Homo sapiens: one gene and its partner. The protein of the gene in region 2 purifies or fractionates together with the protein of the main gene of each other region. This does not show direct contact. Each region holds a gene or a part of one and is shown on either strand. Other genes may lie near its edges. The genes, in order: THEM4 and ULBP1.

Region 1 (3,807 bases), on a different chromosome or scaffold from region 2:
CTCATATTGAAATGTAATCCCCAAAGTTGGAGGTGGGCCCTGGTGGGAGGTGAATGGATCATGGGGGTGAATTTCTCATGGACGGTTTAGCACCATCCTCCTCGGTACTGTCCTCATGATAGTGAGTTCTCATGAGATCTGGTTGTTTAAAAGTGTATAGTACCTTGTGCCTTGCACTCTTGCTCTTGCTGTGTCCATGTGAAGTGCCTGCTCCTGCTTTGCCTTCTGCCATGACTGTAAGTTTTCTTGCTTCCTTTTTTTTTTTTTTTTTTTTTTGAGACAGAGTCCCACTCTGTTGTCCAGGCTGGAGTGCAGTGGCGCAATCTTGGCTCACTGCAACCTCCACCTCCTGGGTTCAAGTGATTCTCCTGCCTCAGCCTTCTGAGTAGCTGGAGTTACAGGTGCCGCCCCACCACACCCGGCTAATTTTTGTATTTTTAGTAGGGATGAGGTTTCACCATGTTGGACAGGCTGGTCTCGAACTTCTGACCTTAGGTGATCTGCCCACCTCGGCCTCCCCAAGTGCTGGGATTACAGGAGTGAGCCACTGTGCCCGGCTGACTGTAAGTTTTCTGAGCCCTCCCCAGCAGCCAAGCAGATGCCACCATCATGCTTCCTGTATAGCCTGTAGAAATGTGAGTCAATTAAACTTCTTTTCTTTATAAATTACGCAGCCTCAGGCATTTCTTTATAGCAATGTGAGAACAGCCTAATGCAGTGGGCAAAAGAGGCATGAAACAGTTTTGAGGGGCCTTATTACAATCATATGAAGTAGGTACTATTTATTATCCTCATTTTGCAGATGATGAAATTAAGGCCTAAAAGAAGTTTGGCATTATTAGGGTGCAAGAATAGGGGCAGATGGCTGCAGAAATGCATGTAAAACCTTAACACTAAGCTAACTGGCTTGAATTGTATCTGCAGTGCTCTCTGAGGGATTTTAAATGGGGGGTAACATGATTAGATCTTTCCATAATATAAAAGATAGTGGGAGTGTCCAAGGTTGAAATCAGAGGGCCCTATTTGGAAGCTACTAGGGTAACTCAGGTGAGAAATCATGAGAGCATGAAGCAGAACTTGGTGACAATTTGGATAAGGAGGGTAAGGGAAAAAGAGAAATACAAGACCCAGTACCAGGATTCTGAATCCTGCAGTGAGGTGAATGACAGAGCCAATTACCAAAAAATATAGGAGAAAGAGGAGTAGGGAGCTCAGGGGACAAGTTTTTGGTGTCACAGTAACCACAACTTCCATCCATCTATTTCTGTAGCACCAAGCACTGCTATTACTCCAATGCCCAGGCAACAAATGGAACATTGCAGGGATCCTAGAGGACCTGGAAGACAAAGTGTGACTTACTCAGGAGCAGAACAAAGTGTATGCCCACAAACACCAGAAAGGAAACTGGCTTTTTGGACTGCTGCAGTTATCTTGGAACATGTAGGATCACAGAAGCTATTAACTCCATGGCATTCTACTTTCAGCCACCCTTATCAATTCATTCAGATTTAATGTACCTACAATACACACACTGCACCATAAAACCAAAACGGGGAGGTCACAGTATGATGGGAGAACCAGCTTTCTGCTGACAGGGGCTGGCTCCAATGCTGGCTTGGTGGGAAGAATACAGAGAACCTGTCTCAAAAACTCTATGGAAGAAGAGACAGCCTGGCCTCCCAACCTATATCTTTCTTCCATGCTGGATGCTTCCTGCCCTCGAACATCGGACTCCAGGTTCTTCAGTTTTGGGACTCTGACTGGCTCTCCTTGCTCCTCAGCTTGCAGACAGCCTATTGTGGGACCTTGTGATCGTTCTTAATTATTGTAGGAACATAATACGTGTTGGATTGGGCAGAGTGATTCCTCCAACTTTCTTCAAAATCGTATTAGCTGAGCATGTGGAGGCTTGTATTGTGAATTTTAGTTCAAGATTGACTGCAAGAACCAGCAATCCCAAGAGGACCCACAGACCCTCTGAAGGAAGCGGACTACTCCTGCAGGACCGGGAGACATCCCAAATACTGTGAGTGCCCCAACTGTGGAATTGGGAAAGAAAGACCCTCCTCTCCTGAACACACACCCCTACTGGAGAAGCTGGTCTGTCTGCAGGAGAAATTTCTGACTTTACCTGGAGCTGAGTCAAGTTAGAGAGCTAAGCTGAGCGAAATACAGGGTAAGGGAAGCAGCAGAAAGGCCCTGGGAGCTCACTGGGTCCCCAAGCAGCCCATACCTGCCTGGCACCACAGGGATTCATCAGGAGGGTGGCCAAAGGAGCAGGGGGTAAAATTCCACAGGGAGAAGAAATTCTGCGGCTGAACTTTGTAACAGTTTGAACTGGGGAGAAGCTTCCTGGCCAGAACTCGGGGAGGGCATGAACCCGGCTTGCAGACTTCACAGGTCGGGGAAGAACTAAAGCCCTTTTCTTTTGCAGCTGGGAGGTGGAAAGCCTCAGACAAGTTTTCAAGCCCGTCTTGCCCTCCACCTGGAAACAGACACGGGGATGTTGGAAGGGCATGGTGGGAGTGAGACCGGCCCTTCGGTTTGCATGGGAGCTGGGTGAGGCCTGTGACTGCCGGCTTTCCCCAACTTCCCTGACAACCTGTATGACTCAGCAGAGGCAGCCATAATTCTTCTAGGTACACAACTCCAGTGACCCGGGAATCTCACTGCCATCCCCCACAGAAGCTGCAGCAAGATCCCCCCAAGGAGAGTCTGAGCTCAGATGTGCCTAGCCCCAGCCCCAGGTGATGGTCCTTCCCTATCCACCCTGGTAGCAGAAGACAAAGGGCATATAATCTTGGGAGTTCTAGGGCCCCGCCCACCACCGGTCCCTCACCATACTGCTACAGCTGATGCTTTCTGGAAAGTGCCACCTCTTGGCAGGAGGCCAACCAGCACAAAAGTAGAGCATTAAACCAAAGCTAAGAACCCTCACAGAGTCCACTGCACCCTCTGCCACCTCCACCAGAAAAGGCACTGGTATTCATGGCTGGGAGACCCATAGACAGCTCACATCACAGGACTCTGTGCAGACAACTCCTAGTACCAACCCAGAGCTGGGCAGACTCACTGGGTGGCTAGACCCAGAAGAGAGAAAACAATCACTGTAGTTCAGCTCACAGGAAGCCACATCCACAGGAAAAGGGGGAGAGTACTACATCAGCAGAACACCCTGTGGAACACAAAAATCTGAACAACAGCCTTCAGCCCTAGACCTTCCCTTTGACAGAGTCTACCTACCCAAATGAGAAGGAACCAGAAAACCTACCCAGGTAATATGACAAAACAAGGCTTGTCGACACCCCCCAAAAATCACACTAGTTCACCAGCAATGGATTCAAACCAAGAAGAAATCCCTGATTTATCTGAAAAAGAATTCAGGAGGTTAGCTATTAAGGCAATCAGGGAGATACCAGAGAAAGGCAAAGCCCAATGCAAGGAAATCCAAAAAATGATACAAGAAGTGAAGGGAGGGCCAGGTGTGGTGACTCACGCCTGTAATCCCAGCACTTTGCGAGGCCAAGGTGGGCAGATCACAAGGTCAAGAGATTGAGACCATCCTGGCCAACATGGTGAAACCCCATCTCTACTAAAAATACAAAAATTAGCTGGGCATGGTGGCACACGCCTGTAGTTCCAGCTACTCGGGAGGCTGAGGCAGGAGAATTGCTTGAAGCTGGGAGGTGGAGGTTGCAGTGAGCCAAGATTGTGCCACTGCACTCCAGCCTGGGCGACAGAGTGAGTCAAAAAAAAAAAAAAAAGAAGGGAGAAATATTCAAGGAAATAGCTTAAAGAAAAAACAAT
Region 2 (4,298 bases):
ATCCTGGGCAGGCCTGAGTCTAGTGGCCGGATGCCTGCAGCAGGGGTGAGGCAGGAGGGCCCAGGTGTGCACACAGGCCCCTCCTCCTGTCACCTGGCTGTCCTGCTTGGGGCTCTCCTGCCAGCCTCCTTCTGCCTTCCTCCTGTTCCCGCAGTCACTGGCCCAGGTCACCCGGCCTCAGGGGTGGTGCTGCCAGGGACTTCCCAGTGGCCTCCTCCTAGGACTAACCTGAGCTCCTGCCCCCAGCCCTGTACATGGGAGGCTTTTCTCACACACAGATCCCTGGGCCCACCAAGCTATTCCCCTCCCAAATCTGAGAACTGCCCACCCCCGTGTGACTGTTGTCCTGCCGACCACCCTTCATGTAGCCCCTCCTGGACAGAGGCTCTAGTGCATCAGGCCAGAACCTTTTGGCTCCTGTGTCCCTGCTCAGTCACAGAGATGGCTGCCATCCCATGTCCCTGTCCTGAAGCATAGTCAGGCCCTGGGCTTGGTCCAGGCCTCCTCCCCTTTCCCACAGCCTCAGGACCCTGGTGATTGATGGTCACCAGGTGAAGGTCTCCCCACATGAAGACTGTGTGGAGTGGGAGGTCTGTGCCTATTTTTCTCATTCATTGGGGAATGGGCTGAGTGGCTGGGGGCAAAGTGGGACTCAGGGGCTCTGCCCAGTCCTTACTGCAGGCTAAGCCCTCCCTTGCGGCCAAGAGCCACTGGGCCCTCCACCTCCCTCTGGCTTCTACCCGCAGATCTAGATGGTTTCATGGTGACTCAGAGGAGGATGCACTCGGGCGTCCCTTTTGAGGATGGCTGCAGGGACCATCCAGGGACTGAGCCGAGGTGCAGATACAGCCACGGATTTGGGTGTTGTTAGACACAGAAGGGTGTGTAGCAAAGTGAGCCCCACGCATGCGTAGACTCTTCCCTCGGCTTCTGCTCTCCATGGAAACACAACTGATCACATCATGATTGATCACGGTAGCCCTCTAGGGCTTTCTTTCTTTTCTTTTTTTTTTTTTCCAGAAGTCATAAAGGGATATAGAATATACTCAAAGACCACCTCATGCTTTTAGTGGAGAGGCAAAAAAGGTTCGCTCCGGAATGGGGAAGCGGCTGCGCCCTGGACGGAGAGGGGCGGGGACTTCGCGACTGCAGGCGGAGGGAGGGCGGGTGTCGCTGGCGCAGGCGGTGACAGGGAGACACCGCCGCCACTGAGTATTCCTATGCAAGTTTCTTCATCTTCCTGTGCATCAGTGTTTACACTGGGGTAATGATAAATGCTGTGTTGAAAAATTATTTGATGGGGCCATGGAAGGAACGGAAGGAACGGCGTCCTGGCCCGCTCGGGGCCCGCGCACGCCGCCACCAAGCCGCGGGGGCGGGTCGGAGGGGAGAGTTGCGTCAGCCAGGCCGCTGTCAGATGACGAGCCCGGGGCGTGACGGGGTGGAGCATCCCCAAAAAAGTGCATGCCTAGGATCCCGCCCAGTGTATCCCTGCGCGCGGCGGGCCGGGCTGGGCAGCTTTATAAACAGCCGTGGTGTGAGCCTCGAAGGGAACCATCAGCGCCTCCTGTCCACGGAGCTCCAGGTCTACAATGGCAGCGGCCGCCAGCCCCGCGTTCCTTCTGTGCCTCCCGCTTCTGCACCTGCTGTCTGGCTGGTCCCGGGCAGGATGGGTCGGTGAGTTCGGGGATGTAGCCTAAGCAGGGCGGGGGCCAAACCTGGGAGGTTGTGGACTGCAGCGGGTTTCAGAGGAGGGGAGGCTTCTGGAAGGACCGGCGCGATCTCCCTGAACGAACATCGCGGTCTCCCCGAACGTCGCGGTCCCTCCGAACGTCGCGGTCTCCCCGAACATCGCGGTGCCCCCGAACATCGCTGTCTCCCCGAACATCGCGATCTCCCCGAACATCGTGATCTCCCCAGACATGCCCAGCTGAAGGCACTCAGTTCCCCTCGGTGGCTCCTTTCCGCCGGGTCCGCTTCCTGCGGCTGCTGCTTGCCCCTCAGGCCAGGAGGTTTCTGGAAGGACCGGTGCTGTCTCCCCGAACATCGTGGTCTCCCCGAACATCGCGGCCTCTCCGAACATCGCCCTCTCTCCGAGCAACGCGATCTCCCCGAACATCGCGGTCTCCCCGAAAATCGCGATCTCCCCGAACATTGCCATCTCACCGAACATCGCGATCTCGCCGAACATGCCCGGCTGAAGGCACTCAGTTCCCCTCCGCGGCTCCTTTCCGCCGGGTCTGATTCCTGCGGCTGCTGCTTGCCCCGCAGGCCAGGAGGCTTCTGGTAGCACCGGCGCGATGCCCCCGAACATCGCGTTCTACCCCAACATCGCGATCCCTCCGAACATCGTGATCCCCCCCGAACATCGCCGTCCCCCCGAGTAACGCGGTCTCCCCGAACATCGCGGTCCCCCCGAACATCGCGGTACCCCCGAACATCGCCGTCTCCCCGTACATTGCGATCCCCCGAAACATTGCGATCTCCCCGAACATCGCGATCTCGCCGAACATGCCCGGCTGAAGGCACTCAGTTCCCCTCCGCGGCTCCTTTCCTCCGGGTCCGCTTCCTGCGGCTGCTGCTTGCCCCATAGGCCAGGAGGCTTCTGGGTGGACCAGCGCGATCTCCCCGAATATCGCGGTCTACCCGAACATCGCGGCCTCCCCGAACATCGCGGTCTCCCCGAACATCGCGATCCCCCAGAACATCGCGGCCTCCCCGAACATCGCGGTCTCCCCGAACATCGCGATCCCCCAGAACATCGCGGTCTACCCGAACATCGCGGCCTCCCCGAACATCGCGGTCTCCCCGAACATCGCGATCCCCCAGAACATCGCGGTCTCCCCGAACATCGCTGTCTCCCCGAACGTGCCTGGCTGAAGGCACTCAGTTCCCCTCCGGGGCTCCTTTCCGCCGAGTCCGCTTCCTGCAGCTGCTGCTAGCACCGCAGTCCAGGGGGAGTGTCAAAGAAGGCTGAAAAGGAATTGCAGGAGGGTGGAGGGACCAAAAGGCTACAGAGGGCAAGGTAGGGCGGGGATCCCTGGTGCAGACCCGCAGCCCCACTGGCCCTAGGGAAGGAGAAACCAGATTCCCGAACCCTAGCTGGGGTCAGGACAGGGGTAAAGGGGAGTTCCACAGGGACGCGATCACAGACTCCCCCATCAGCCACAGCCCTGCTCTGCTCTGACCTGCTGTTCACCACACAAAGCTTCCAGCAGCCCCAGGGCTCCCTGCCCTGGAACTTCGCCCCTACACTTTGCTGCAGACACTCACCTGCACGCAGGGGCTCACCAGACACTTGCTACCCTTCCCCTCACCATTCACTTTCACCACCCAGGTCGCATCCTTTCACTCCCCATCTCAGCTCACCCCTGTCACCACACAGGCCTCCCTCACCTCCCCATCCATGAAGGGGCCCTTAGCACCTCCCCCGACCAACTAGCACCTTGTCCCCTTTTGCCTGAGGACACACCCCAGCAAACACACCCCAGGCTTTCCACAAAACTTAATGCAGGGGGGACGGGAAATCCCATTTCCCTCACGATGACCCTGGGAGCGCCGGTGAGTAGAGGTGCCCACTTCTGCCCTTGGGTCCCAGACCCGCCTGTTCTTCCGACTGGGGAGCCAGGGTCATATAGAATAGTCACTAAGCAGACAGGAGTCAGCAAACCCTTTCTAGAAAGGAAAGGCTGAAGGCACTTTGGTCCTTGCTGGCCGTGAGTTCTCTGTCTGTGTGTCAAGTCCTGTCCCTTTGTAGAGCAACAGCAGGCAATGGTAACCTGCAAATAAAAGGGAGAGCAGATGTGGACCCTGTCCTAGGTTGCTGACCCCAGATGAGGGCACATGCTGTGTCCTGGCAATTGCTGCCCCATCCCCTAGGGTGTCATCTCCAAGTAGTGTAAGTTGAAGAGTCACAAGTGTGTCCTACCCTGCCTGTGGCTTCTGGGTGGTGTGGATGTGATGGATGTGAATGGAGGTCCTATGGTTCTGGGCCTACTGCGCCCCTCCTTTGCTGCTGGGTGGCATCATAGGTCCCTCAGGGCAATCAGGGACCCTCCTTAAAGCCTCAGGTGTGAGCTAAGGGTGAGGGGGTGCAGCCATGTAGTGTCCTGGGGATCGGGGCCAACTGCTTGTGCAGCTTCTTGGTTCCCTGTGGCCCTGCTCCTGCCCATCCCAGGAGACCCACCTGTGTCTTCTCACTGTGGGGCCTATATTCCTAATGACCTAAAGGGTGAGGAGCCCACCCTGTGATGGGCAGCTCTGAGGCTGTGTGGTCACTGCCCTCCCATAGCTGGAGG

The links.
Region 1: the proteins of ULBP1 (region 2) and THEM4 purify together in Homo sapiens (affinity purification with mass spectrometry; one large-scale study listed by BioGRID and IntAct). This does not show direct contact.

What each region holds. Positions count from the first base shown.
Region 1 is NC_000001.11:151,895,735-151,899,541, forward strand, and holds part of THEM4 (acyl-coenzyme A thioesterase THEM4), read right to left. Parts: intron 1-3,807. UniProt on the Homo sapiens protein: Has acyl-CoA thioesterase activity towards medium and long-chain (C14 to C18) fatty acyl-CoA substrates, and probably plays a role in mitochondrial fatty acid metabolism. Plays a role in the apoptotic process, possibly via its regulation of AKT1 activity.
Region 2 is NC_000006.12:149,962,458-149,966,755, forward strand, and holds the start of ULBP1 (UL16-binding protein 1 isoform 1 precursor), read left to right. Parts: upstream 1-1,485; 5' UTR 1,486-1,592; coding exon 1,593-1,677; exon of another isoform or gene 1,678-3,025; intron 3,026-4,298. UniProt on the Homo sapiens protein: Binds and activates the KLRK1/NKG2D receptor, mediating natural killer cell cytotoxicity.